2 separate regions of the Homo sapiens genome follow, and region 1 is linked to region 2. Evidence: fine-mapped expression QTL. A gene starts in region 2. The other region holds a variant in brackets. All regions are shown on one strand. Distances are between the middles of the regions.

Evidence for each region. PIP is the estimated chance that this variant, and not a neighbour inherited with it, causes the effect.
Region 1: its variant is the best candidate, but not a certain one, in a credible set for the expression of JHY in tibial nerve (GTEx, PIP 0.66).

Annotation. Positions count from the first base shown.
Region 1 is chr11:122,927,533-122,943,319 of GRCh38, forward strand. JHY (junctional cadherin complex regulator) reads left to right here. Exons shown (of 9, transcript NM_024806.4): 5 at 6,888-7,543. Among named protein-coding and RNA genes, the nearest start is that of BSX, 46 kb to the right of the region's middle. The variant C/T (reference allele first, on the strand shown) is at 7,799.
Region 2 is chr11:122,874,915-122,890,701 of GRCh38, forward strand. It overlaps JHY (junctional cadherin complex regulator), which reads left to right and starts at 7,845. Exons shown (of 9, transcript NM_024806.4): 1 at 7,845-8,058; 2 at 10,847-11,279. The coding sequence starts at 10,936. RefSeq lists a silencer at 7,964-8,323.

The sequences.
Region 1 (15,787 bases), 53 kb after region 2:
ACTACCCAAGTCCAATGCCTTCTTTTTAGTGCCTCCTCAAGGGCCACCTCTGCATGGAGATTCCCAGCCTCTCCCACCCTGCTCCTCTGCCCTCAGCTCCTGCTGTGTCTGTAGTCTGGGCCACTGGCTCAGGGCCTGCCATATTGGGCCGTGTCTCATTAACTGCTGCCTGTGTTTCTTTTTCTTTTCTTTTCTTTTTTCTTTTTTTTTTTTTTGAGACGGAGTTTTGTTCTTGTTGCCTAGGCTGGAGTGCAATGGTAGGATCTTGGCTCACTGTAACCTCCGCCTCCTGGGTTCAAGCGATTCTCCTGTCTCAGCCTCCTGAGTAGCTGGGATTACAGGCACCCACCACCACGCCCAGCTAATTTTTGTATTTTTAGTAGAGATGGGGTTTCACCATGTTGGCCAGGCTGGTCTCGAACTCCTGACCTCAGGTGATCTGCCCGCCTGGGCCTCCCAAAGTGCTAGGATTACAGGCGTGAGCCACTGTGCCTGTGTTTCTTTTGTACCCACTACACTACAAGATCTTTTAAGGTACCGATTGTATTTTTCTCTACATCCCCTACCACAGTGCTTTGCCCAAGGCTGATGCTCAGTAAATATTTACTGACTGATTAAAGAAACATTTAAAGATCATGGGCCAGGCACAGTGGCTCATGCCTATAATCCTATTGCTTTTTTGGAGGCCAAGGAGGGAGGACTGCTAGAGGCCAGGAATTCGATGTTACAGGTGCCACTGTACTCCAGCCTGGGCAATAGAGCAAGACCCTGTCTCTAAAAAATACAAAATGCAGATAAAAAGATTATTTAGTGTATCTCCAGGAGAAAATGGACCTCATTTGAAAATTTTTTCTTGAAAAATGACTTTCAGAGTTTCATAAACCTACCCTAACAACAATAACCTTCACTAATGTGAAATATCTTTGTGCAAAATCAAAATATTTCACACAACAAATATTTATTGAGTATCTACTGCATTCCAGGCACTGTGGATTAGGTGCCTGGCCCAAAAGATACGGGGAAAAAAAAAAAAAACAAGCAAACAAACAACAACAAAAATTCTTTAAAACAATAAATAAAACTTGAAGAAAGGTTGTTTTTTGTAGTTGTTGGTTTTTTGTTGTTGTTGTTTTTGAGACCGAGTCTCACTCTGTTGCCCAGGCTGGAGTGCAGTGGCACAATCTCGGCTCACTGCAAGCTCCGTCTCCCGGGTTCAAGCCATTCTCCTGCCTCAGCTTCCTGAGTAGCTGGGACTATAGGCACCCGCCACCACGCCCGGCTAATTTTTTGTATTTTTAGTAGAGACGGGGTTTCACCGTGTTAGCCAGGATGGTCTTGATCTCCTGACCTCGTGATCCGCCCGCCTCGGCCTCCCAAAGTGCCAGGATTACAGGCGTGAGCCAACACGCCTGGCCCATTTTTTCTTTTTAAGGCTGAGTTTCACTCTCGTTACCCAGGCTGGAGTGCAATGGCACAATCTCGGCTTACCACAACCTCTGCCTACCAGGTTCAAGCCTCCCAAGTAGCTGGGATTACAGGCATGTGCCACCACGCCTCGCTAATTTTGTATTTTCAGTAGAGATGGGGTTTCTTCATGTTGGTCAGGCTGGCCTCGAACTCCTGACCTCAGGTGATCTGCCTGCCTTGGCCTCCCAAAGTGCTGGGATTACAGGTGTGAGCCACCACGCCTGGCCAAGGTTGTTTTTTGTTTTTTTTTTTTTTTAAAGCAGTACCTCCCCTCTAGGAGTTCAACACTTTAGTGGGAATCATTATGTAATCATTATAATGCAGTAATATGGACCTGGGTACAAAATGCAGTGGAACTAAAAGAGCAACTAATTCTGCCCTAAGAAGACGGAGAAATAACCCCCATAGGAGTCAGTATCTCAGCTGCCCCTAGAAGGACAAATCCGGGCAAAGGTGTGAAAGTGGGAGGAGGAACGAGGAACCATGACAGCTCTGGCTGCTATTTGTATGGTCTAGGGAGGGAAAAGTTGACATAGTTGGTAAGGGCTGCTGTCTGCCTCACGCATCCCAGGACTCAGACTGGAGAAGAGATTGTTCGCAATCTAAGCAGGTACCCAGCAGTGAGGTGCCGTGCAAGGGACATTACACATGCAACTCATGTATATGGAAGGCTCCATGACTTGAAAAGACTAAATACCAAAAATACAAACAATAATAATTACATATATGTAGATAGATGTATATTTGTTTGTTTATGTGTGGAGTGACAGAGAAAATGATGAAATGTGACCAAATGTTTAAAATTGTTCAATCTGGATAAGAATCCTTTAGAGTTGTCCATACTAGCAATTTTTCTGTAAGTTTGAAATAACTTGAAAATAAAAAGGTCAAGAAAAAAGTGCCCACAGGATTTGGTGACTAAAAGTTTATTGGTGGCCTGAACAGAGCAATTTCAGCGGGATGGGGAGAAGGAACGCTCTATGGCAGGGGACAGAGGTCAGCATGAGAGATGGGGAGCAGAGACCAGTGCAGTCTACACCATCAAGACGCCCAGCTGTGAACTGAGAAAGAGATAGATTTTTCTTTGCTTTTGTTTTTTGAGAAAGGGTCTTGCTCTATCACCCAGGATGGAGTACAGTATCGTGATTTTGGCTCACTGCAACCTCTGCCTCCCAGGTGCAAGCGATTCTCCTGCCTCAGCATCCCGAGTAGCTGGGATTACAGGTGCAGGCCAGCACGCCCAGCTAATTTTTGTATTTTTAGTAGAGACAGGGTTTCACCATGTTTGTCAAGCTGGTCTCAACTCCTGACCTCAAGTGATCCACCCGCCTCTACCTCCCAAAGTGCTGGGATTACAGGCATGAGCCACTGTGCCCAGCCAAGAAAGAGATAGGATTTAACCAGAGGATGTATTCAAGTGAATGTTTTTTTCCTTCTTTTCATAGGAGAGACTTAAATACATTTACATGCTAGAAAGAACGAGAAACCAGAGAAAGGGCGAGAAAAGAGAGAAGATATGCCTGAGACCATTTCAGCCTATGTATTTTTACTTTAAAAATACTGAGAATGATGGTCATCATCATATTCTATGTAAGAGTCTTATCCATGCCCAGATCCATCACTTGAAGCCAAGTCATCTCTCTTCATTTAACCTTGCTACATAGGCCTTAGCGTCCTGAATCGCTTCGCACTTGCCTGTGAATCTTCACAGGTTTTCCAAATCCTGCTTAGGTTGTGTGCCCAGACTGAATGCAGTATGTTTAAGGCTCAGGACTCTTGCTGGGCAGTGTGAGGGGCACATTCCCACTGGCAGAAGATCTTTTCCAGGTATCTTAGTCTGTTTGTGCTGCTATAACAAAATACTATAGATCAGGTGGCTTAGAAACAACAGAGGTTTATTTTTTTCACAGCTTTGGAAGCTGGAAGTCCAAGGTCAGGACACTGGCAGTTTCTATGTCTGGTGAGGATCTGCTTCCTGGTTCATTGGTGATGCTTTCTCACTGTGTCCTCACACAATGGAGGGGGGGAATGAGCTTCCTTGAGCCTATTTTATAGGGACATCAATCCCAAGAAGGAGGGCTCCGTCCTGCTGACCTAGTCACCCGAAAAGACCCCACCTTTAAATAGCATTACCTTGGGGGTTAGGATTTAACGTACGAGTTTAGGGAAGACACAAACATTCAAACCATGGCACCAGGCAAGAAACATGCCAGTAGAAAAAAATTAAAAGTTCCCCAATTAAGTAATGTTTCAAAAGGATAAATAGGATGTTTTCTTTCTTACCCCTCTAAAATAACTCTTAGCTTTCCAGGCAAAGAAAAGGTAATGATAGTATTAAAGATATATAGGACCTTTTACTTATTAATATGAAAGCCCTTGTAATCAAATCCTGATTAACCTTTCCAAAAAGCTGTTAATTTGGTTTTGCCTCCAACACTATCAATAGATCTATGCTTCTTCTATTCATCTGAACACAGAGTTCTTCCTTACCCACAGAGAAAATCAGAGCCAATTAATATTTTTGCTTGAGATTCTCTTAATATTATCAGATGGAATTTGTATCTCGGGCTTAAAGTACTCATGTTTTATTGTTCATAAACACAGCAGAAAAGCAGAACACAACAGACATGTCTTCACTTTACAGCTGATCTCAGAGCCCAGGCACAACTCTCAGGACTCCACGGTTGAGTCAGGTTAACTAAGAGCAGGAGTGGCTTTTGTGTTGAAACAGATGAACTTTCTGGTTGAGATCAGAGCAGGCATTGTCCCGTCTGCTGATGAAATGTGAAAAGGAAAGCCGTAAAAGAGAAACAACAAGGTGCTGGCTTTCACAGGGTCGGGGACAAACTTCTCTTGGGTGGCACAGTATGAACGAGCATTAATTAATAACTAAGGATGAGTCCCACCAAGAAATTATCATCCCAGCATTAGGCATCAGGATTCCCCCATGCTAACACTCCGTGTGTGACGCAAAAACCTACTGCCATTAAGCAGTTATTCTAAGTGCATGGAGTATGCAGCGACTGCGGGTGTTGGTAACAAAAGAACCCCAGTGAGAGCAGAATGGAATAGAGGATTTCAGTGCTGATGGAGATTAAATCGTCTGAGAATGGCTTTGTATATTAACTTCAGGGAACTCAGGTCTTGCCACCTAAAGAGTGACACCTGATGCCCCAATTGTAGGGTAATAAATCTTCAGTAAACCACAGATCTCAAGTAGGCTGCTTGGAAGGTGAGAAAAATCGTATCAAGCCCATAAATGGCTTCCTTTCTGGGGACTGAAATGCCATCTCTGGGCACTTATATGTATGTGAATAGCAGATTTAACACTTGAGACAATTGAAGTTTCATAAAATGATGAGTCCTTGGCCTTGTTGTCAGAGCGCCCTGTGAACAGGATTGTCAGCAGCAAAGGTAATAACATGATTAAGATCAAGTGGTAACCCAGGATTTCACATCTAGTACCCAAGAAATTTCTGAGAAGTAAGTATTTTCTTTTTTGGTGAAAATTAAGAGAGAAAACTAGGAAAAGTACATTTAGATGGCAGCATCCTGGTTACTTCTCTAGCGAGTTAAAGGCTGAACAAAATATTGAAAAGAATGACATTATCAGCATCAATTAATACTTTTAGGTCACAGTCAAGGGGGGCATTTTTGACCTTCACGAATAGTGCTGCCAGCCATAAAAAGAGCTGCTATATTCCACAACCACACCTATAATATTGTAATATAGCAATTATTTTCTGGATCCATTACAAGAAAGGATTTTCTTGGAGCTATGTATTTGCAGAGCCTTCCTGCCCGCATTTCCCCATGCAGCTCAATTTACTGCATGGAAGGAATACCTAGAATTTACCTGGAATACAGAAGAGAAGTTTTCCCTTTTTTGGGAGCACCACAGGTAAAAATTTAAAGTAAGTAGGAGCTAATCAGAGCCTGGCCAATCCCCCAGAAAGCTCAAATTCTCAAAAGAACAGCTTCTAAATTTCAAATTAGAAGTCGTTATTTCTTAAAAATATGATATGATAAGTAACATTGTGTATTACTGTTTTAAATTTAATAATCTCAACATTATCATTATAATGTGATTTCACTAGAAATAGAACACTGCTTAATATTATACAGGAATAGGATGAGTCTTAGTGGTTGTATCAGAATGTATCAGAAAAGAGAAATCAAAGCTGAACTCATCACAGTAATTTGATCATTCCTTCTAGCAAGCTAAAATAATCATTCATCCAACTGTTGCATTTTTCAGTTAATGTTTTATAGATAAAAGCTAAAGAGATTTTTTAGTATATGTGTTCAGAAAGGAAGAAATATGTTGCAGTTATATAACACACTGATGCATATGGTCATCCTACTGTTTTCAATAAGCATTTAATCATTCTTTGCAAAGGCCTCTTAACTCAGCTAGTTTTCCACGAAGTAATGAGTGCTTTATTCCTTGGAAAATATTTCTAAATGGCAATAGCACAATATAGTTACATAGTGTATCTATTATACCAGGAGTACATTTTGTTGTTAGGAGACTTTGAAAAGCATAAAGACTGTTGTGAAATTGAAATATTTCCCCCAGATGTTTGATTGCCTAAGCGCAGGCTATATTAAGGAACAGAAGCAAAACAGCCCTTGTGGCTTCACAGATGTCCTATCACAGCACAGGCTCTTTTATAATCCTCTGAATAAAATCTAATTTGTTTCATCTGGTGAAGAGGTCATTTCTAGCTTCTGACCAGCATGAGTAAAAAGATCTGATCATCTCAATTGTATTTAATATTAGATTTGTACTTGGTTTGTAAAGCAAATTATTAGTGTTTTCTGGTTAAGATTTTTAAAAATATTCATGTTACTTAAAATAAGCTTGTATATTGTAATGTAGATTTGCATTTGTACTTTCTCCGTATCTCTCGAAGTAAAGCTTCCCCACCTCATCCCCCAAGTTGGCAACACTTTTAAGTCAAAGACTTAACTTTTAAAACTTAAACTTTGAAGCCAAAGACTTGTCCTTAATATAAAGCCCATTCTAAGCTTTCTATTTCTTTCTAGGCTTATAATCCTAAATTTCCAGGAGGAATCACTCAGTTATTAACTCCAATTCCCTGAAATTAGGAAAAAAATCGTCTACTTTTTCTTTATCTGCTTTCAGTTCTATGGTCACCTTCCTAGAAGTCTCAACCCCCAATTTGGAAAACACTAATTTAAAATTTGTGGGCTGAGGCAGGAGAATGGTGTGAACCTGGGAGGCGGAGCTTGCAGTGAGCCCAGATCGTGCCACTGCACTCCAGCCTGGGAGACAGTGAGACTCCGTCTCAAATAAATAAATAAATAAATAAATAAATAAATAAATAAATAATAAAATAAAATTTGTGAAGAGTGCCAGTCTTCTAATTTTACATTAACCAAAAATATCTCTTTAGAATTACCAGGAACACTGGTCTCAATATGAAAGTACAAAATCAAGCAATGTACCAAGAGGGCAACCTTCTGACATGGTGAATGACCATCAACCTTCCAGAAGACCAGCCAAGCTCAAGATTCGAAAGCAGTGTAAACACCAGAATGGCCTGAAGTCTTCCACAACGGAAGAGGTGACTGCCAGTCAGGGGAACCAGAATAACCCTCCCAGGCAGCAACAAAACCAAAATAAGCCTCTTGATACTTCAACAAAGCCTGAATCGATTGTGATTATGCATGCCTCTAACAATGATGTACAAGCCTCAAGGGCACTTAGAAGCCACAATCTCAAAGAAACCTCCAATACATTTGCTCCACCAAAACAGGCTTTTGACAAGGTCTTATCTAAAAACTCTACTGGATGTGACTCTGGGCTGAATGTTAATAAAGAAAGAGGACACAAAGACCAAGAAGAGAAAAGATTTTCATATCAGCAGCTACACACCCTTTCTGACATGGATTTGAACAACCTTAATGAACTTTCTAAGAGACACGTGCTCCTGAGCCAGAAAGGCTCTCAGTTTGTTTATCACATAAATACTCATGGATCAACCAAAAATAAGAAACAACTCAAACAGCCTTATACAGAGACAAAATACAGGAACTTAGAAATGTTATGGTAAGAATTCCCTTTTCTCAAGTGGTTTTCTAGAGGAGAAAGGAGAGACTGCTGCAGAAAGACGGGAGAGGAAGAAGGGGAAGGGGAATCCATAAGGTGGCTAGGTGAGAAGAAGAGTTCACCTAACAACTTCCTTAGCTCTGATTCCTGCCTCAAAGAGTCCACTTTTTTTTTTTTTAGACAGATTCTTGCTCTGTTGCCCAGGCTGGAGTGCAGTGGTGCCATCTTGGCTCATTGCAACCTCCGCCTCCCGAG[C/T]TCAAGCAATTCTCCTGGCCCAGCCTCCCAAGTAGCAGGGATTACAAGCGTTCACCACCACACCGGGCTAATTTTTGTATTTTTAGTAGAGACAGAGTTTCAGCATGTTGGCCAGGCTGGTCTCGAACTCCTGACCTCAAGTAATCCACCCGCCTTGGCCTCCCAAAGTGCTGAGATTACAGGTGTGAGCCACCGCACCCGGCCAAGAGTCTACTTTTGATGGATTTCTTTTCCTCTTCCCTGTCTCCGCTATTTTTCCACTGTAGTTAAACTAGAAGTTGAAGGGAGAGGAGGACAGAGGGACCCAGTCAAAAAACATCAGTGTGTTTGGGGGTTGCAAGTAATGTTTGGAGGAAACAAATGATCTTCAACATTATCATGGCCTATCCTGAGAAAATAATCTAAAATACAGAAAAATATGCACATACAAAAAAATCATCATTTATAGAGGTGACCTAAAAATCCAACAATAGGGAATGTTTAGGTAAATTATGATATTTAGTATCATGGAACCACTAAAAATTATGGTTATGAGGAAATGCTTCTATAGGAAGAAAATAGTAAGGTACAAAATTACACCTTGGGTTGAATGACACTGGTAGAAGAAAAAGTACATCTAAGGAGTATGAGTTCTACTGTGTTAAAATATGCACAGAAGAAAAATTTACCAAAATGTCAATAGTGGTTATCTCTAGCAAGAGGGATTGGGATTTTAAAAATTTATTCTTTATATTTTCAGAACAGTTCAAGTTCCCCACGATGTAGATGTATAACTTCTATAAACAGGAAAATGAAAGTTATTTTAAAAATTACTTCAGGCACCATTTCTTGGTGTTCTTCGATCAAACGTCCTTTCTACATACCTAACATACTGAATATAATGCTACAGTGCTAAATGCTATACAAGGTACAAAAGAAGTATGGTGTGTGAGGCACCTTCAAGGAACTTGACTTTCAAAGTAGGGAGACAATTACTCCCTCGTGAGTTGATCAAAGAACATTTAAGTGTCACACTTGGTGATATGGAATGTAGATTTAATAAGATTTAAAGTTAGCTTCCTAGAAGAGATAATGATAAATAGCAGGCATCTTTGTCTTTTTTTTTTTTCCTGATTTTAGAAAGATTGTTTCTGACACTTTTACCATTAAAAATAATATTTAGTTTTTGGTAGATAGATAGATGATAGATGGGAAATTTCCTCCTATTCCTCTTTGCAAATAACTTCTATCATAAACGAGTATTTGATTTTATCAAATACTTTTTCTGCATTAATTGAAACATTTCTCCATTAATCCTTTAGTGTGATGAAATATGTTAACAGATTTTTCTGATGATGCACTGATTTTTCTGATAACCCTTTTATTCCTAGGGTTAACCCAATTTGTCATACTGCATTTTTAATAAGTTGCTTGATTTGATGTGTTAACACTTTGTTTAAGATTTAACATTTTCATATACATGAAGTGAAATTGGCTTATAATTTTCCTATCTGCCACTGGCCTTGACTGGGTGGATTATCAAGAAAATACCAGCCTTATAAAATGAGTTGAGGACTATTTCCTCTTTTTGCATCCTCTGGGACACTTTATATACAATTGGCCTTACCTGTTACTTGAAGGTTTGATAGAATTTTCCTCTAAAACTATTGGGCCATTGGTGGGTTTTGTTTGGCTTTTTGTTGTTGTTTGTGAGCAGATTTTAAACTCCTGATGCATTTACTATAATCATTATAAGACTTTGCAGTCTTTTCATTTTCATTTTAGTCAGTTTAATACATTATATTTTTCTAGGAAAAATTTTCCTTTTATGCTGTCTTAAAATGTACTGTCATAAAGCTTTTTGTAGTATTTAAATAACTTTAATATTATTCCACCTTTATTATATCTATAATCATGTCCCTCTTTTCATTTCTTTTTTTTTTTTTTTAATTTTTTTGGCAGCCTCAACCTCCTGGGCTTCTTTTGCTTAATTCTCTCTGTACATATAGCTAATTGATCCTACGCTTATGAGTAGCCTTTTAGTATAAGTTTCCATAAGGACAACCCCATCGGGCAATTTCTCAATTCTTCTCTCTTTCTTGGAGCCAGACTTTGTAGACACCTTTACTTTCTTTCTCTTTCGAGACTTGCTTCACAGCTGTCCTGGCTGAGGATTCCCTTTGCCTTTCTTCTGATAGGATTCTCTTTTTCAGTATCTCACATTTTCCTTATTTTGTTTGAGCACCCCTTCCGGCATTTCTTTCAGATTGAAAATGTGGTACAAGGACAGGGGACAGGGTGATGGGCAGTTCTCAGCGTGCCAGTGTCCTGTGCCACACCTGTTTTCTGACTGCGTTCCGCTGTTGTTGTGCTCATATTATCCTTAAGAATCTCCATGCCCTCATGGAGACCCTCTTCACTCTTCTCCTTCGTCACCCTTCCCGTTTTTTCCATCCCCGTTCTCTTTCTTAGTTTCGTCTCTAATTTTGATAGAGAACATCCTCCATTGCTTGAGAGGTAAATGTTTTGAGATCTTGCTGAAATTATCTTTCTTCTGCCCTCGCCCCTGATTGGTAGCTTGGCAGAGGATTGTAGAATTCTAGATGGAAAATCATTGTCCCTCAGAATTGCCTTCTTGCATCCAGTGTTGCTGTTGAGAAATCTGAAGCCACCTTATTCCTGATCCTTTGTATATAATCTGTTTTTTTTGTTGTTGTTTTTTGTTTTTTGTTTTCTGGAAGCTTTAGGATCTTTTCTTTTTCTCTACTGAAGTGAAATTTCATAATATTGCGCCTTTGTATAGGTCTGTTTTCATAGATTGAGCTGGGGCCTTTAAACCTGAAAACATATGACCTTCAGTTCTGGGAAAATTTCTTGAGTCATCTTTATGGGTAGTTCCTTTCAACCATTTTCTGTTTGCTCTTTCTAGAAACTCCTGTGATTCAGATGCGTTTTTCCAGGACCGTTATTATGATTTTGTTTTCTCTTTCTTTCTCCATTTCTTTCTAATTTTGTTCTACTGTCTGGGAGGGTTTCTCAGTCCTAGCTTCCAGCCTTTCTACTGCTATCATGTTTGTTAATTTCCGACAGGATTTTTTTGTTGTTGTTTCTGTTATTGGTTTCTGAATGCTCCTCGTTTTATAGCCTCATGTTTTTGTTCATGGATACAACATCCTTTTTTCTCAACGTCTTCTTAGATTTTCAACAAGGCAAAATAGGGTGTAAGGGCCCTTGTGACTGAATTTTTAAGTGTTTTTAATTCCCTGCTTTGCTTCTCTTTCCTCTAGGTCTTTGTCAGTGATGTTTGTTTCTCTTCTCCTATTTTGCTGCCTTCCACCTTAGGGCTTGTGTCAGATGTCTAGCAATTCTTGATCATCTTCTCATGATCAAGTATGAGGGACTAGAAAGCTTATTGGAAGCTCTGAGTGACAGTGCTTGTTGACTTTGAGTGCCTATAGAATGATCTTTGGGTGCCATGTGATAGGAAGCCCTTCCTGTAGGTTTTAGGTCTTTTCTCTTGGTGGTCAGATTTATTATCTGTGCTTGGTGCTTCACAGGCAGAAGACTTGTTGGCTTCTTCAGAATGAAAACCTCCAGCGAGCTGCGGAGAGAGGGAAGGGACAGTTGCCTAGGTGCACAAAATGGAGAAGATGATCTGGAGATCCGCCTGCTTCTTCTTTTTTTTTTTTTTTTTCCGGAGACGGAGTCTCACTCTGTTGCCAGGCTGGAGTGCAGTGGCACGATCTCAGCTCACTGCAACCTCTGCCTACCGGGTTCAAGCGATTCTCCTGCCTCAGCCTCCTGAGCAGCTGGGACTACAGACGCCCATCACCACGCCTGGCTAGTTTTTGGATTTTTGGTAGAGACAGGGTTTCACCATGTTGGCCAGGATGGTCTCGATCTCCTGACCCCGTGATCCACCCACCTCGGCCTCCCAAAGTGCTGGGATTACAGGCGTGAGCCACCGCACCCAACCCTGACTGCTTCTTAAACAGACTTTCAACCAAATCTTTTTTAAGTAACTCTCACATAGACTTTCACCACCGCCACTCCCACTTACAGCTCATGAGCCTTACAGGATTCTATGGTGTAAACTGTGGCTTCTCTGCTTTCCCTGCTGCTAACTTAGATTCCACTTTTTTGAGTCTGCTAAGATAGTTACCATTCAACCATCTGTTCTCTGCTTCCGAAATATTTGCTCTTTTCCCCCCATTTTGTTCTCTTTATCTTCGTGGGTTGATGTCTTTTAAAAATCTCTTTATATATAATTTTGATTTGCATTTGAGAGTTAAATTGCATGCTTATTCTGCCACGTTTTTTCTACCACCTTTTCATTTTGAAATTGTTCACACCTAGTAAAAACTTGGGGGAAAATATCTACAATAAACACCTGTAGTCCTTCATCTAGATTCATCAGTGCTAAAATTTTGCAACATTTTCTATCTATTTACTGAATCATTTGAAAGCAAGTTCAGAATCACAATATTTTATCTCTAAATATTTCAACATTCAGCCCCTAAGAATAAGGACATTGTCTTATACAACAATCACACCATTATCACAGCTAAGAATATTAACGTTATTGTACACAATATCATGTAGTATCAGTACATTTTTAAATTGTATTACTTGTCTCCAAAAAGCCTTTTACAGCTTTTTTTTTTTTAAATTCCTGATCCAGTATTCAGTGTTCATACATTTCATTTACTTTTTGTCCCTTTAATTAAAAAAAAAAAAATCTAGAACAGACTGGGCATGGTGGCTCACACCTGTAATCCCAGCACTTTGGGAGGCCAAGGCGGTGGATCACTTGAGGTCAGGAGTTCGAGACCAGCCTGGCCAACATGGTGAAACTCCCACTCTACTAAAAATACAAAAATTTGCTGGGTGTGGTGGCAGGCTCCTGTAGTCCCAGCTACTCGGGAGGCTGAGGCAGGAGAATCTCTTCAGCCTGGGAGGCAGAGGTTGCAGTGAGCTGAGATCCTGCCACTGCACTCCAGCCTGGGCAACAGAGTGAGGTTCTGTCTCAAAAAAAGAAAAAAAAATCTAGAACAAATTATCCAATGCTCACTTTTCATTGTTTTCTATAACATTGCCTTTTTAGAAAAAATTTATTGTTTTTGGATAGTTATATTTAGGTTGACCATTTCAGGCAAGAATACTACTTGGGTGATTTGGTGTACTTTTTATTACATTATACCAGGGGATACATACTATCAGGCTATCATATTATTGGTGATGCTAAGTTAAACCTTTTGATTAAGGTAGCGACTACCAGATCTCCCCATTGTAAAGGAACATTTTCCCTTTATAAGTAATTATTAATATTCGAGACAGTGTAATTATCCTAGTTTTCAACAGCTTTTTGTACAGTGGTTTTAGCATCCACTGACAGTGCTTACCTAAATCATCCATTACACTGGGGTTGCAAAATGGTGATTTTGTAATTCTATCAATACCTATACATTTATTACATGGCTGTTGAAATAAGACCTTTTCCTCTTCCTTTTTCTCCTTCCTTCCTTCCTTCCTTCCTTCTTTATCTCTCTCTCTCTCTCTCCCTCTCTCTCTAGTATCATTATGGACTCATAAATCTTTTCCTATAAACATGTTAAAGTCTATTACCATCATTATACTGTATATGTTCTCACTGTCTTGGATTTGAGCAGTGGGAGCCCCTTCACTCCAGTTCCTGGGTCCTTTTGATGTAACATCTTTTGTCTTCGAGCACTTCTTTGTTTTCTGGCATAGTAATATGTTCTAGGTTTACCTTTGGACTTCCCCTGAACTCATGTGGAAGCATCAGTTTCTCCAAAAAACCCTAATTCTTTTTAGTAGGGAATGGAATTTAGAAACCAAGATTTGAGAGCTATGTGTTCTCATTGCTACTGAAATGTTATTGCTTCTAGACTCAAGATCTCAGCAGTTAGAGCTAGAAAATACCTGTACCTGAACCTCTTTCTATAATTATGCCTATGCCAATACATATTTCTGTATACTAGTGGGGTCACACAGATACCTCAAATCCAACAGCTCTGGGTTCTTCCTCATGCTTCTCCTTTTCCATATTTGTATCTCCTTTTTCCAACAGTGAAAACCTTAGTTTACCAAAACATCAATATGTTTACACATTTACCCTTCCCTACAGTATATGTACAAATAGTTTTATAATTACAATGCCAGTACCACTACCAAACAGTCAGTCTAAGTAAAGCTCATGATTTCTTTGCCATTCTTTTTCCTCCCTCTATATTCTTCTAAGGGTGTACAACCAAACTACATTGACTCAAAATTACTTCATAAATTAATTCTTTTCTCTTGGTAGAGGTAATCAGTTTAACATACAGTTAAATTCATTTGTTTTGCTTTGTATTCAGTGTTAGGATTTTCTTTTCTTCTCATTGATTTTAAATTTTATTTTATTTTTTGAATATGTAAAACATTACATGGTAACCAGCTGCTTGTAGGATGTGTGACTGCAGGTCACTGTGTGTGCCTCCTGTTTGGTAAGGACCATGACAAGAAATAGAAATTCCCTTTTTGTTGTTTGTTTTAGTTTATTTATTTATTTATTTATTTTTAGACAGAGTCTTGCTCTGTCACCCAGGCTGGAGTGTGGTGGCACAATTTCGGCTCATTGCAACCTCTGCCTCCCAGGTTCAAGTGATTCTCCTGTCTCAGCTTCCCAAGTAGCTAGGATTACAGGCACGTGACACCATGCCCAGCTAATTTTTATATTTTTAGTAGAGACAGCGTTTCGCCATGTTGGTTAGGCTGGTCTCGAACTCCTGACCTCTGGTGATCCACCCACCTCGGCCTCCCAAAGTGCTGGGATTACAGGCGTGAGCCACCGCACCTGGCCAGAAATTCCTTTTTCAAAGCAGAAATTTATTCTGTCCTAACTCAGAAGAAACCACAATAGTTTATTTGTGCTTTCTCTCTCTTTTTCTTGATCAGCCTTGCAAAAGGGTTGTCTATTTCATCTGTCATTTCAAAAACAACTGTTCCTCTATGTTTTGGTTTTGTTTTCTCTTTTATCCATCTTTGTTCTCATATATTTACTTCTTTTCTTTGATATTGCTTGAATTTACTTCAGTGTTTTTGACTTCTTAACTTCTGTTATTTATTTATTGAGACAGAGTCTCACTCTGTCACCCAGGCTGGAGTGCATTGGCATGATCTTGGCTCACTGCAACCTCCATCTCTCGGGTTCAAGCGATTATTGTGCCTCAGCCTCCCAAGTAGCTGGGATTACAGGCATACGCCACCATGCCCAGCTAATTTTTATATTTTTAGTAGAGACAGAGTTTCACCATGTTGGCCAGGCTGGTCTTGAACTCCTGACCTCGAGTGATCCACCTGCCTTGGCCTCCCAAAGTGCTCAGATTACAGGCATGAGCCAACGTGCCCAGCCCTTAACTTCTGTTTTAAATGCTTAGCTCATTATTTCTAAGGCTTTCTCCTTTTCCAATATAATTTAAAATTATAAATGTTCCTCTAAGTATGTTTTAGTTGCTTCCCACATGTTTTAAAATGTAGCATTTTTATTATTGTTTAGTTCTAAGTATTTTCTTCTCTTTTTAGAGGCAGGGTCTCACCATGTTGCCCAGGCTGGAGTGCAACGGAGTGATCCTAGCTCACTGCAGTCTCCAACTCCTGAGCTCAAGTGATGCTCCCACCTCAGGCTCCCCACTAGCTGGGACTACAGACAGGCTCCACCACACCCACCTACTTTTTAAAATTTATTTGGAGACAGGGTCTCATTATGTTGCTCAGGCTGGTCTTAAACTCCTCGGCTCAAGCCATCTTCCTGCCTCAGCCCCTTGAGCTGCTGGGATTACAGGCACAAGCCACCTCGCTCAGCTAGTTCTAAGTATTTTCTAATTCCATTATGATTGCCTCTTGGATGATCAGTTATTTGGAAGTATGTTTATAAATTTCAAAACATATAAAGTTATTTTAGATATATTTATTGTTATATATCTAACAAAACAATTATTGTCAGAAAAC
Region 2 (15,787 bases):
AAAATAACTATGTAATAAAAACAGCCATGAGCACAAGAAAAGATGGGAAACGCAAATCGAAACTGGAATATGATGCCGCTTCACACCTATAAAAATGGCTATAATAAAAAAGAGAAAATAACAAATTTTGGAAAGGTTATAGAGAAATGAGAGCCCTCAGACATGACTGGTGAGAATGTAAAATAGCTCAGCCACATTGGAAAACAGCCTTGCGTTACTCAAAAAGTTACACATAGGGTTACCATATGCTTCAGCAGTTCTACTCCTAGAAAGAATATACCCAAGAGAATTGAAAAATATGTCCACACAGGCGGGGCGTGGTGGCTCATAGTGAAACTCCATCTCTACTAAAAATACAAAAATTAGTTGGGTGTGGTAGTGTGAGCCTGCAAGCCCAGCTACTCAGGAGGCTGAGGCAGGAGAATTGCTTGAACCCGGGAGCCGGAGGTTGCAGTGAGCCAAGATCGTGCCACTGCACTCCAGCCTGGGCAATAGAGCGAGACTCTGTCTGAAAAAAAAAAAAAAAATATATATATATATATATATATCTCCACACAAAAACTTGTACAGTAATATTGGCCAGGTGCGGTGGTTCATGCCTGTAATCCCAGCACTTTGGGAGGCCAAAGTGGGCAGATCGCTTGAGCTCAGGAGTTTGAGACCAGCCTGGGCAATGTGGCAAAACCCCGTCTCTACAAAAGATTACAAGAAGGAATTAGTGGGGCATGGTGGCCCTCGCCTATTGTCCCAGTTACTTGGGAGGCTGAGGTGGGAGGATCACTTGAGCCCCAGAGGTCAAGATTGCAGTGAGCCACGATGGTGCCACTGCCTTCAAGCTGACAATGAGACCCTGTCTCGAAAAAAAAAAAACAAAAAACAAAACAAAACAAAAAAACCTTTTACAGGAATATTAATAGCAATATTATTTATAATAGTCAATAGTGAAAACAGCCCAAATTACCATCAAATGACGAATGGGTAAATAATAGTGCCACTGCACTCAAGCTGACAATGAGACCCTGTCTCAAAAAAAAAAAAAAACCTTGTACAGGAATACTAATAGCAATATTATTTATAATGGTCAAAGGTGAAAACAACCCAAATGGCCATCAAATGATGAATGGGTAAATAAGTTGTGGTATATTCATAAAGTGAGGCTGGGCGCAGTGGCTCATGCCTATAATCCCAGCACTTTGGGAGGCCAAGGTGGGCGGATCAGCTGAGGTCAGGAGTTGGAGACCAGCCAGACCAACATGGAGAAACCCCGTCTCTACTAAAAATATGAAATACAAAATTAGCCGGGCGTGGTGGCACATGCCTGTAATCCCAGCTACTCGGGAGGCTGAGGCAGGAGAATCAGTTGAACCCAGGAGGCGGAGGTTGTGGTGAGCCTAGATCACACCATTGCATTCCACCCTGGGCAACAAGAGCAAAACTCCATCTCAAAACAGAAAAAAAAAGTGAAATATTATTTGGTAATAAAAAGAAATGGAGTACTGATACATGCTGTAACATGAACTTTGAAAACATTATGCTAAGTGAGAAAAGCCAGACACACACTCACAAAACACATATTGTATGAAGCCATTTATATGAAATGTTCAGAATACACCAATCCAAAGAGACAGAAAAGAGATAAGTGGCTGGCAAGGGCTGAGGGAAGTGGGAAATGAGGGGTGACTGCTAATGGATATGGGGCTTCCTTTGGGGAGACAGTCTGGAATTAGCTGGTCGTGATGATTGTGCCACTCTGAATATTTTAAAAATTACTCAATTGTGCATTTTAAGAGGATGAATTGTGAGGTATGTGAATTATACCTCAATAAAGCTGTTACTTTATTTTGAGACTGAGTTTTACTCACTCTGTCACCCAGGCTGGAGTGCAGTGGCACAGTCTCGGCTCACTGCAACCACCTCCTCCCAGGGTTCAGGAGATTCTCCTGTCTCAGCCTCCCAAATAGCTACGATTACAGGCACGCGCCACCATGCCCAGCTAATTTTTGTATTTTTAGGAGAGACAGGGTTTCACCATGTTGGCCAGGCTGGTCCCGAACTCCTGGACTCAAGTGATCTGCCCACCTTGGCCTCCCAAAGTGCTGGGGTTACAGGTGTGAGCCACTGCACCCAGCCAAGCTGTTAGCTTTTAAAAATCACTTTGTAGAACTTGTTTGGGTCCTGATTTAAACCAACCAATTATAAAGACACGTAGGAGACAGTCTGGGAAGTCTGAACACTGAGGATTAGACGATATTAAGAAGTTATTACTAATTTTGTTTTAGATGTGATCGTGGTGTCATGGTTATTTACAAATGATCTCTTGGGGACACATCTTAAGTACTTACAGATTAAACCATGTGATAGCTGACATTTGCTTCTAAATAATTTAGTCTGGGAGGAGCACAGTATGTATGGAAACAAGGTTGGCCACATACTGATCTTTGTTAAAGATGGGTGAGAACAATGTGCCCATTCATTATACTTTTCTCTCTACTGTTGAATATGGTTTCAAATTTTCATGATGAAATGTTTCAAAATTATTTTTAAGAAAGAAAACCAAGGACACAAAAAAGGAGAAAAAAGCCTGTCATTAATCATCTGTTCAGGCCAGGCATGGTGGCTTATGCCTGTAATCCCAGCACTTTGGGAGGCCAAGGCAGGCGGATCACGAGGTCAGGAGATCAAGACCAACCTGGCTAACACAGTGAAACCCCGTCTCTACTAAAAAAAATACAAAAAGTTAGCCAGGCGTGGTGGCGGGCGCCTGTAGTCCCAGCTACTCGGGAGGCTGAGGCAGGAGAATGGCATGAACCCGGGAGGCAGAGCTTGCAGTGAGCTGAGATTGCGCCACTGCACTCCAGCCTGGGCAACAGAGCAAGACTCTGTCTCAAAAATAATAATAATAATAATAATAATCTGTTCATTTGCATTCCTAAGAGCCATCCTTCCAGATCATCTATTTCCCAAAGTTGATCCCGGCCAGGCTGAATTCTCTTCCTCTGGGCTTCCCCAGCACGTGGCTCGTTCTTCTAGAAGGGTGTCAAAGTTACTCGTATTTCTGTCTGTTGAGTTTCATTTTCTGTTTAAACATATATTTATACCATTTCAGTCCTCTAAAATTCTCAGGGCTGACTCTTTCTAAGTAAATACTTTTCTTTTGGATAGTTGAGGTTTATCTCTTTGAGATGTTAAATGTTTTAATATTTTGGACAAAAGTCTTTGTAAAATAAGTTACATGACTTTTACCTTTCTAGTCAATATTTATGAAGCTGACTTACCCTATATGAGTTTCAAGAAGTTAATCATTATGAAAATTAATCTTGGCACTTGCCATAATAGTGTGATTCTCACACAGGATATTCAGGAATAAGGCTGTTTGTTCCTTACACCAAATGAACCCAGGTTGCTTTGTTTGTTTGAACATCTCTTGCTTTTGTGATATTTTGGTCACTTCTCTTGCTGGTACTGCCCCTTCTTTCTGCCCTGAGAGTGCCCTCCTTGACCCTTTCTGATTTACCCTACGTGTGAAGAAACCAGACAATTAAACATATTACAGTTATATGTAGAATGACTACACTGCCTGGCTACCCAGGACAATTTCAGTGTATACCTATTGTCCCAGTGTAATTAATAAATAGCATCCTTAAAAAAAATTCTTGAATGTATCCTAGTTGGCTTTTTCTTTCTTTTTCTTTTTTTTAGTGGTGGGATCTCACTCTGTTGCCCACACCGCAGTGCAGTGATGCAATCATAGCTCACTGCAGCCTTGAAATCTCGGGCTCAAATGATCCTCCTGTCTCAGCCTCCTGAGTAGCTGGACCTATAGGGCATGTACCACCACACCTGGCTATCCTGGATTTTAATAAATTATCTGATCAACCTAGTTATATGCCAAATATGAGTATATCCTTGTTACAAGGTTTGACTGGCCACTCTCACCAGTTCTATTAAAGGGACTGACTACTTATCTACTCCCCAATCATGTGCTAAAGTCTAAGGATATTGTGGCTTTTTTTCAACATTTACTGAGGATTTATTAGGTGCCATTCACTACGTTTGTCCTTGTTCTCTGGTTCTCTGGGAGCTCATAGTTTAGTAAGGAGGTGACATAAATATAAACATGTAATTTCAATGCAGTGTTGTACAAGCATATGTATAAAGCTAGAGGCATGCAGTTGGGTGCCTTGAGACCACAGACCAAGGGCCATTAGCCTAGCACAGAGTTTGTCAACCTCGGCATTATTGACATTTTGGACCACATAATTTTGGCAGGGGGGTGGGGGGACTGTCCTGTGCATTTTAGGATGTTTAGCAGCATCTCTGGCCTCTGTCCATTAGACGCCAGTAGTACTCCCTTAAGTCATAACAACAAAAAAATGCCTCCAGATGTTGTCAACTCTCCGTGAAGGATAAAACTGCTCCAGCTTGAGAAGCACCCTGGTCCAAGAAGCATCAGACAATGTGGGGGAACTGCCACAAAATTCCTGCTAGAGGAGACGCTGCTGAGCTAGACATAGGTCTGGTGGACTCAGGAGGGGTAAGACCAAAAAGGAAATGGAGCAGAGGAAGGACCTCACGAACAGAGCATGAGTGATGTGTAGGAGAGGGAAACAGAAAGAAGGGAGTTGCATGAATGGGTGGCATGGGGTGGAAAAGGAGTAAACTCAGTTCAGTATTACTAACCCATGTATTTAAGCGCTTTTTGACTTGTTTTTCCTATTCTGCGTATTTTGGTTAGTTCAGGGTCAGGTTGACAGCTGAATTCTAAAAGATAATATATGCAAAAGCACTTTGCAGACCCTGTGAAGTGCTATTCATATGTAAATTATCAATGTTATTACCATAACAGCAGATGAAAACAATGCACTTTATGGTTTTATTTTGTTTGCATGCACTCTGTAATCCTTAAGAATTCTGAAAAGCAGAGCATTAGTGTGCTGCTTATTAAACCATTGTCTCTCAGCTTCACTCATATACTCTGGTCGTGATGCTGGGGCAACCCCTACAAACCTCATTTTTCTTTGCCAGCCGGCTCCTTGTATTACTCTGCCAGGAGGGGACAGTAGAGGGAGACCCCAAGCCTGGAGACTGGAAAAGGGACTGCTCCTTCCTTTTCCTCTCGAGGTCACCTTGACAACGTCTCTTCACTCCAGCAGCTCAGTTGGTTTCAGCAGCAGTAGCTGATTCCAGTTTTCCCAGCACTCTCAGAACCAGCTTCATGATTCCTTTTCAAAGACACCAGCACCCACTAGCTTGGGATTTCACCCTCCTGAGAGGCCTGGGTCCCAGCTCTGAGTGTTAATAATTTCAGTGTTAATACTTCTAAGTGTGAATAATTCTTTCCTGTGATTCCCCAGCCACAGAGGTGGAAGCTGCTTCCTGTACTTACTACCTCTATGACACTTGTGTTCCCTTTTCAACTTTTCAGTTAATAAATCTTCATATTAAATTATTTCCATTATACTAACTGGCATGGTTTCTGTCTTCTCACTGACCCTGACTACCACTCGTGTTGATTATTCCACCCTTTAGTCACTCCAGATACTCAGGACAGCCATTACAAGGGGAGAAGGAGGAAGATCAAGCCCAGAGTGTCCCACGCTCTATGTGTGACTAGTCTCTGCAAGTAGCTGCTGGATTGACAGACTCCTGAATCACGTAGGGACCACTAATTTTCAGAAAAGCCAGTTAAAATCTCTTCTGGATAGTGCAGAAAACACTGGAAGAGTCTAAAGAACCACAGCATCAAAAGTAGACAAGTGTGAATGACTCAGCATTGATTCTATAACATATTCTGGAAGCCACTATTAGGACTAAATCCTTTTGCTTGAAATTTGCTTGCATGTTTGCAGTTGCTATAATAATACCTTGTATAATATACTGGGCAGAATAACACTAATGGTTTCAGCTACGTTGCTTTTATTTCTTCTACAGACATTGAGGTCCTACTGTGTACTCATAAGACAAGGTCCCTGCTGCCAAAAAAGTAAAAAAAAAAAAAAAAAAAAAAAAACTAACTCAAATAAAAAACAGAATAAAAAGTGCTAAAGCTGGGTAGTAAAGACATTTTCCAATTTCCTGTGTTTCCTATCATTAATGAGGCAACTGGTATTGAAGCATTCTTTTTTTATTTTATTTTATTTTTTTGAGATGGAGTCTCGCTCTGTCACCCAGGCTGGATTGCAGTGGCACATCTCAGCTCACTGCAACCTCTGCCTCCCCGGTTCAAGCAGTTCTCCTGCCTCAGCCTCCCATGTAGCTGGGACTACAGGCGTGCACCACCACGCCCAGCTGATTTTTGTATTTTTAGTAGAGACGGGGTTTTGCCATGTTGGCCAGGCTGGTCTTGAACTCCTGACCTCAGGTGATCCACTCGCCTAGGCCTCCGAAAGTGCTGGGATTACAGGCATGAGCCACTGTGCCTGGCCGAAGAATTCTCTTTTTTTTTTTTTTTTTTTTTTGACAAGGTCTCACTCTCACCCAGGCTGGAGTGCAGTGGCACAATATTGGCTGACTTCAGCCTCAACCTCCTGGGCTCAGGTGATCCTCCCACCTCAGCCTTCCAAGTAGCTCGGACTATAGGCACGCGCCACTACGCTCAACTAATTGTTAAAAATTTTCGTAGAGACAAGGTTTTGCCATTTTCCCCAGGCTGGTCTTGAACTCTTGGGCTCAAGCAATCCTCCAGCTCGGTTTCCCAAAATGCTGGGATTACAGGGTGAGCCACTGCACCTGGCCTCAAACCAATCTTTGAAGGTAGTTATTCAAATCTACTTGTTGTTTTAATGTGAAGATAATTCCTAATGCTTCCTTTCTTTATTCTTTTTTGAAACCTTTTTTGATAGTGAAATATTCTACCCATACATAAATGTACAGCTTAATGAATTTTTACAAGATGAACATCTATATAACCATCATTAAGGTCAGGAAATACAGTCTCAAAAACATTCTTCTCCCTACCTGCCAGAACCGACCACAATCCTAACTTGATGGGAATCACTAAGTGGGTAGTGTTTCCCATAAAATTGCTTTTTTGCTTTTTTTCATAGTTTCCTCCACTAAGTATGGAGCCACAATCACTGTAGAGTGTAATTTAGCCTGTTTTTTATATACAAAAATCATACAGTATGTACTTTTTCTGGGTTTTTGTTGTTGTTCAAAATTGTGTTTTTAGTATGCCTCCATATTGTTACACATAGTTGTATTTCATTCATTTACAGTGCTATGTAGTATGCCAGTATAGGCAATAGCATAATCTAATTAACCATTCTTTTGATGGATAGTTCAGTTATTTCCAGTTTGCATGCACAGGAGCACGCACTTCTTAGGGTAAATACCTAAAAGTGAAATTGCTGGATCCCAAGGCATACATATCCTGGCTAATGTCAAACCATTTTCCAAAATGGTTGGTTGCATCGGTTCTCACGTCCGCCCGCAGAAGGTGACGGTTCTTTGCACTACGTCCTCCCTAGCACCTGACGCTGCCAGACGTTTCAACTTTGGACTTTTCGACTCAACTTATGGTGAGTGTGGTATTATCCGCTGTGGTTTTAATTGGCCTTCTTCTGATTATTAATGAATTAAAGCATCATTTCAATAAACAGATATTTATTGGCCATTTAGATTTCTCGTGTGTTTGTGAAATACCTTTCCATTTACCCATTATTTAATTGGGTTCCTTTTCTTCTTGATTTGTAGCAGTTCCTCGCGTATTTTAGTAGTTTTATTTGTGGCAAAGATCTCCTCCCCCGGGTGGCCTCTGCCCTCCGGCGCTGGGAAGTCCGGGCGGCGAGGCAGCCTCTCCCGGGGCGTTCGGGCTCCTCCGGCTCTGCCCCGATGTCGTTATTACGGCCGTTTGCAGCCTCCGTGCCAGGGCCGGGGGTGCGGTTCGGGACGCGGGATCCTAGGTCGGGTCCTGCCCCGCCCATGTGGCGCCGGCGTCTGTGTTGTCTGCGGTCTCCAGGGCAGCGCCGGGGCGGGCGGGGGCCCGGGCGGCGGCGGCGGCGGCGCGGGAGGATGCGGGGCCCGTCCGGGTCGCGGCCGCGGAGGAGCGCCGGGCAGGTGACGGGCGGTGGCCTCCCGGATCTGGGGTGGGCGGCGCGCCCGGGGAGGGAAACGGGAAGGGCTTACTGGGGATGGGGACGGCAGGAAACCACCCAAGCAAGCTGGGGAGGAGCCGGCGCGGGAGCCTTCGGGACGGAGTGGGGAGCGACAAGGGGGCGAGGCCGCGACAAGGGGCTGGGGGGCCGCCATGCGAGGCTTCGGCGCCCGGGCACCCAGAGCAGCCCTGTTCCCGGTCAATTAGGACCGGTCCCGGGCACCAGGCCCGCCGACTTGTCACTTCCTGGACCTCCAAACGCCCCTTGTGACAGGCCTTGTTCCTCAGGAACAAGCAAAGGTAGAAAACCGAACGCCTCCCCTGGGCAGCTTCCGGCCTGTTTCAAACCAGGGTTCGTTCCTTTTTCTTTACGATTCATCTTGGTGAGCCCAAGCAGGGTTCCTTTTCCCCTCCAGGAGAAAGTTCGATTGTCCCATGCTAGTGGACTAGACCCACTGCAGGGATCCCTGGGGAGCTGGCCGCTTCTTAGTCCCTAGGTGCCATCGGATCTATCGCTGTCTTGTTTATTCAGGAGACTAGTCACCTCTCTTGGTCAGAAATTTCAGCGGCACAACCTTTTTTTTTTTTCACTGGACGGGAGGAGGGAGCCACATTCATGAAATTTAAACGCCCACTTTCTAACTTATTCAAGCTGTCAGCTGTTCCTTCTTCCACCCCATGTTTTGGTAAGATCAGGCCTCCACAGAAAACCCAGCTTTTGTGGCGTTTGGCTTTGCTCTTTGCATACTTTAGCAAACTTCAGGAATCTGCTAACATCAGCAAAATTATCTTCTGTGGTTACTGTTTTATTTTTTATTCATTCCAAGAAAGCTTAGCCTATTTCATTTAAGAAGAGAAGTTCAAGGGACTGAATTATTTTAAGAGTAATTCTAAGTTGCACTATAACGCTTAAGCTTGCTCTTCAGGATCTCAAATTCAGTGACCTTAGCTCCTCCAGTAAAACCGGTGTTAAACAATCTCTTTTACTTAAAATGTGTTAGTATTTGATAGATTTGCTGCTTTCTTGGCACATCCTAAAAAAGCAACAATTAAAATAATAAGGCAGAATGCAATATGTATTTTAAAAATAAGAGACAAAATAATACAACAAACCAGTCTGTAATATTAGAGAATAATATGTTAGTCTACCAACAGGGCAGACTTCGAGTTCAATAGAAAACTCACTTCGTGTGTATTTACATATGAACGTTCCCTTTTGCCTGTTGTTTGTTAAGGTGCTTTCCTCCAAGGATTTGATGATGCTCCTTGCAAACATTAGCAACAAGGTCAACATTATAAGCAATCCTAGGAATAGTAATAAGGTTGTGTCATTTAATTAAAGTTAGGATTTGCCAAAAGAACAAGAGCAAGCCATTAAGACAAATTTTACAGCAATTTCTAATGGTAAAGGTTTCTGTTACCTGACTCACAGAAAAAAAAAAAATGGGTATAAAGGCAGTGAGATAGAAAATAGACCAAAATAGAAATGCTAGGTAGAGATGAAAGGAAGCACAATCCAAAAACATCATGTCCGTTCGGTCCTACATGAACTCAAAGCACCCTTTCCATGGCTCTTTATAATGACCCTTACAGACAGTGCAGGTTCACTTGAATCACACTCGTAAGTGAGTTGGAAGGGACTCCAGCTAACTCTTAGCTGTAATTCAGGCCAATCTCCCACCCACTCAACTTTCCCCAGGATAGCATCCCGTTCGGTAATGTAGACCTCCAGGCTCTGCTTTGGATCGCTCAGTGGCAGAATTCACAAGACCACTAAATCTTTTGTTGAACAGTTTTATTTATTTTTTCTGATAGGGTCACGTTCTGTTACCCAGGCTGGAGTGCAGTGGCACTCCAGCTCACTGCAGCCTCTGCCTGCCCGGCTCGAGTGACCCTCCTCCCACCGCAGTCTCCCGAGTAGCTGGGACTACAGGCCCATCCCACCATGCCCACTAATTTTTTGTATTTTTTTTTTTTTTTTGTAGAGATGGGGTTTTGCCATGTTGCCCGGGGTGGTCTTGAACTCCTGGACTTAAGCGATCTGCCCACCTTGGCCTCCCAAAGTGCTGGTATTACAGGCGTGATTGTTGAACAGTTTTAATCGTTATTATGGGTTTTAAAAAATACCGGATGAGGTTGATCTCCATTTATGTCCACCTAAATTATATGTTCCTATCTAGTCACAACCTGGCTATCAGAAAGTCTTTTCCAAATGATGTTGCCAGCCCATATAGGTCTAGGAACAAAACAGCTTCCCCATTTACAGTTCCAACTATGGAAAACTACACTCTTCTTTCTTCTTACTTTACTTTCCAAAACATAGCCCCTGAACCTGTTTTACTCTATCCATGAATAACTACGGACCATATTTATATTGCCCATAGTTATTTGGGCATTTGAAATAAGGCTATCAAAGTACTGTCCATAATTAACCATTTGTCTTAGTCCAGGCTTGTCTGTAACAAGCCCTTGGAAGCTAGAAATAGGAATCCACTTCCAAGCAGCCATTTATTTCATCAATAAAACTGCATTCGATTACTCAGGCTGCTTATGAGCGCTACATCAGATGTGTTTCTGCAGAGAGAAAAACAATTGTTTTTCTAATAGACCTTTCTTATACACACAAAAGGGTGCATACAAAAGCCTGCAGATAATATAACAAGGTTCTCTTACTCATTTAAATATTTGATTAACGTTGACAGTATTGAGATTTTAGTGGTCGCAGAGTAACATAAATATATTTTTTTTCAGGTAACGCTTTTGTGAACCACAACTTTAAATATCAGCCAGCTGCTCCTATCAACACGAGTATCCCCTGTTAATTTTTTGCATTTTTCAAGATGAGTAAACGTAAACTAATTCCCAAGCTCTCTATTCAATCTCCTGTCCTTCATACCAACTTAAATGTCCAGTCCACACACCCACCTTTGAAGAAAGAAGACTTACATCGGATTTCAAAAGACTCCTTGGAATCTGATTCAGAAAGCCTCACGCAAGAGATTATGTGCCATTCTGAGTTTGATGATCGAATCCGGGGCAACGGTATGGAGCCCGACAGCTTAGACGAGGAGGAAAGCCCTCGATGGGGAAGCCTGCACGAGATGGAAGAGGAAGCAAGTGGAAAAGCAGCTCAGATGGCTCGCGAGCAAAACCACCATACCTGGGACCAGGGCGCCAATAACAGGTAAGGAATTGGCTTGTGTAAGATAATAATGGGCTCTAAAATGTATCATTAGATAATTACTGTCGTCATTCCAAATTAGAGTAAGGGCAAGCTGCCCTAATGAGCGCCGTGTGTGAGACAGGTCTCCAAGCAGCCAAGGATAGCTGGGCACCATGTTTTTTCCATATTCAGATTTTTTTTAATTAAAAAGTGCAATGGGTATTAATAAGGGCAATTCGCATTTCTCATACCATTTACTTCCTGTCCATATTCCAAGTGTCTCCGCACTAGGACCTCACCTGGGAGAAATTCCAGAAAGCCGGGTATGGAAAAGGATGTGGAGTCAGGTGGACTTGATTTGGTCCAGGCGTTGCTGTTTAGTGTATAATCTGGAATAAATCACTTAACTCTTTTTTTTATTTTTTTAAAAATTTTATGTAGTATTAAATATTTACAATAGAGATGGGAGCTCATTATGTTGGCCAGGTTGGTCTTGAACTCCTAGCCTCAAGCAATCCTTCCACTTCAGCCTCCCAAAGTGCTATGATTACAGGCATAAGCCACCATGCCTGACCCACTTAATTCTTTTTTTGGCTCACTTTTTCTCGTCTGTCAAATAACCTGACTTGCCTATCTCACAGGATTGCTATGAATGTCAATAAAGTACAAATAATTGGGGGTAGAATCTTACTTGGCCCATTCAAAGCTAGTAGAGGTCTACCTCTCAGGGCTTGTATGATCATATAAAGATTTAATCTAATAACCAGAATTTAAGGGATTTAACCTTGTGCTATGAGCTACCAAAAAAAAGTAAGGGAATATGAAATAATGTGTGATATCACTCTGTTACAATTGAGGCACTGAGGATATGAGAGTACAGAAGAAGGTAAAAGCTATTGATTAGGAGGAGGTTTTAGTGTGGTGGTGAAGTGCATGGTGTCTGAAGCAGACCATTTGGGTTCAGATAGTGGCTCTGCCACTTACTAGCTGTATAACCTTGGCCAAGTCCAATTATATTTCTGTGCCTCAGTTTCTTCATCAGTAAAAATGGGATAATAATAATAGTTAACCAGTTATTATGAGGCTAAAATAAATACATATAAATTGTTTAGAATAGTGACTGGCTCCTTATAAATTATATCGTGTTAGTTTTTTTTGTGTGTGGGACGGGGGAGGAGTCTCGCTCTGTCATCAGGCTGGAGTGCAGTGGCGCAATCTCAGCTCACTGCAACCTCCACCTCCCGGGTTCAAGTGATTCTCCTGCCTCAGCCTCCCGAGTAGCTGGGACTACAGGCATGTGCCACCACGCCCAGCTAATTTTTGCATTTTTAGTAGAGACGGGGTTTCACCATGTTGGCCAGGATGGTCTCGATCTCTTGATCTTGTGATCCGCCCACCTTGGACTCCCAAAGTGTTGGGATTACAGGCGTGAGCCACTGTGCCCGGCCGATTTTTTTTTTTTTTAATTCAGGCTGAAATATATTAAGGAAAGTTTATTGGAAGGCCTAGAACTTGGACAGGGTCTTGAAAACAAGCTAAGTTCTGGATAACAGAAGAGAATGGGAGTGACATGTTTGTGGCACATTAGGGAGCCCAGCTGGATTGCAGAGGATTTGTTTTGAGTGTAGCAAAAATAGACTGAGTAGGGGTCTGATTATAAGGGGGCCTTAAAAATGTGCTTATGGTATTGGAAGATACATTTTCAGGTCTTGAAGTGTAACCATCCTACCACAGATGAGGATATTGAGTCTTACAGAACTCAAATGATTTGTCCTTGGGATACAGTCACTGCAAGGGCTCGTGTGGGAGCGAGAAGTAGAGCCCGGTCCTGAGTCTTTTCTTTCTTTCTTATCTTTCTTCTTCCTTCCTTTCGTCTTCCCCCCCTTTTTTTCACTGGGGCTATCTAGTTGAATCAATCTCATAAGTGTCTTAGTGATATGTCACAGTAAAAGTGATAAGAGTTGTCACCAAGGTGCTAGAGGCGCAAGAGGCTTGCAGGACAGCTTCAGAGAGACAGACAACCTTGATAGGACTAGGCTGGGAAAGCCAGGCAGAGAGAATACAGGTTCTTGGGGAGGGCAGTGAGATGCAGCAGCGTTTAAGGAAGATTATTATGCAAGCTAGTGCATTTTGAATTAGAGACTAAACACACAATGGGCAAAGAGACTGCTGGATGGATATGACAGTAACAATGACATCACTTTTTAAAAGCCTATCTTAGTTTCACTCAATTCTCCATCACAATCCTGTAGGGAAGTTGCTGCTTTTCCTATTTTACAGATAAGGAAAATGAGGCTAACAGAGATGAAGAAACTCGTCTAAGGTTATAGTGCTTGGAGGATGTCCTTGTTGTGTTACTGATGCTGTTTTTTTTTTTAATCATGCAAAAATTCTAACCTATAGAAAATTACAGAGAAAAATACAGTATAACCCTTACTGCCATATTTGTTTCAGACCTATTTTTAAAATTCATAGTGTATTACAGATAAAGTTTCCATGTACCCCCTTCTCAAACTCATTCCCCTTTCTTCCCCCTTAGAGGTAATCAATACATACTCTTACGTGAGTGTGCATCCTTCTCACCAGTCTTCCATTCATTTATTTCATAGGTGATCTATAATTAGTGAATAAATATATATCTATATATGGATGCATGATGCCCATTTTGTTCAGTCAACATTATGTTTTTGGGATTTTACAATTATGCTTTTGAACTAAGACATGGTCTTGGTTGAATATTGATGAATATTTAGTTTTTTTCCAGTTTTCGTTATTTCAGACAATGCTCTGTGCATGTCCTCGTGTGCCTCCTTGGGTATGCATGCAAGGCTTTCCTTAGGGTATAAATCTCCAGGAGTGGAACTGTGGTTCATGGGCGACTGGACATCTTCAACTTTACTCACAAGTGCCTGCAAGTTACCAGTCCTCAGAATTACTGTCTTTTTAACTTTTGCCACTCTGATGGGTTATAAAATCCTGTCCTATTATAGATTTAAATTACTTTTCTCTGATAACTTGTGAGCTCGAGAATCTTTTTACATGGTTTTAACCAAATGAGATGGATTTAGACATCCTCTTTGGCAACTGGTTATTTTCATTTAACAAAATACCCATGTGTATCTTGGGTATCCTTCGATAGAGTTGGCTTTCCGTATCCATGGTTTCGCATCTGTGGATCCAACCAAACATAGATCAAAAATATTTGGAGAATAAATGGATGGTTGAATCTGTACTAAACATGCACAGAGACTTTTTTTCTTGGCTTTATTCCAGAACAATATAACAACTATTTACATGGTATTTACATTGTATTAGGTATTATAAATAATCTACAGATAATTTAAAATATATAGGAGGACATGCAGGGCTATATACAAATATTACCCCAATTTATAAAAGGGACTTTCCCATCCCTGGATTTTGGTATCAGCAGGGAGTCCTGGAAACACTCCCTCACAGATAACTGAGCGATGATTATACTTATATGTTCATAATACATGTGTACATGGTACATAGTATTCTAGTATCTGGAGGTGCCATTATATATTTATTCAGTCACCCAAGGGTGGACTTTGGGATGTTCCCAGTTTGTTTGTTTGTTTTGGAGACAGAGTCTTGCTCTGTTGCCCAGGCTAGAGTGAAGTGGCACGATCTTGGCTCACTGCAACCTGCGCCTCCCGGGTTCAAATGATTCTCGTGCTTCAGCCTCCCGAGTAGCGTGCGCCACAATGCTCGGCTAACTTTTTCTACTTTTAGTAGAGATGGGGTCTTACCACATTGCCCAGGCTGTCCTTGAACTCCTGAGCTCAGGAAATCTGTGTACCTCGGCCTCCCAAAGTGCTAGGATTACAGGCGTGAACCACCACTCCCGGCCCCAGTTTCTTGTTTTTTTTTTTCCAACGAAACTTTAACTGAAATTATATATATATATAAATGAAAGAATTGACAGGGTTTGGTGACAGATTAGATATGAGGATTGAAGGAACAAGAGAAGCCAAAGATTAGGGTTCCTGTAACAACAGCTAGCATTTATAGAATGCTTATCATGAGCCCATTTCTGTGCTAAACACTTTACATGTATTATCTCATTTAATCTTTATTGCAACCGTGGTAGATACTATCATGATCCCATTTTGAAGGATGCAAATGAAGCTTTAAAAGTTATATTATACCCATTCATTGCATCTAGTGAGTGGTGGAGCAGAAAACTCAGGCAGTCTGACTCCATGGCCCCAAACCCTGTTTTTATCCTGGTTCTAAGAGATTTATAGTCTCCTAGGTAATAAATGGGAGTAGTTTTAGTTATAGAAATGGGGCCACTGGAAAGGAAACATCTGTTGCAATGGATAGGTATTTTTGTCTGTATTTTTAAGATGAAGAAACCAAGGTAAGGATCCATGAAGTGACCTCATTTCCCAGTTGTTGGGTTTTTTTCTCCTTTTGTCCAGTGCTCAGGGACCTGACTTTAACCCTTGTTCTTACCAAAGGACAGTTTAAATACAATCTAATATGTTTCAAAATAAAGAATA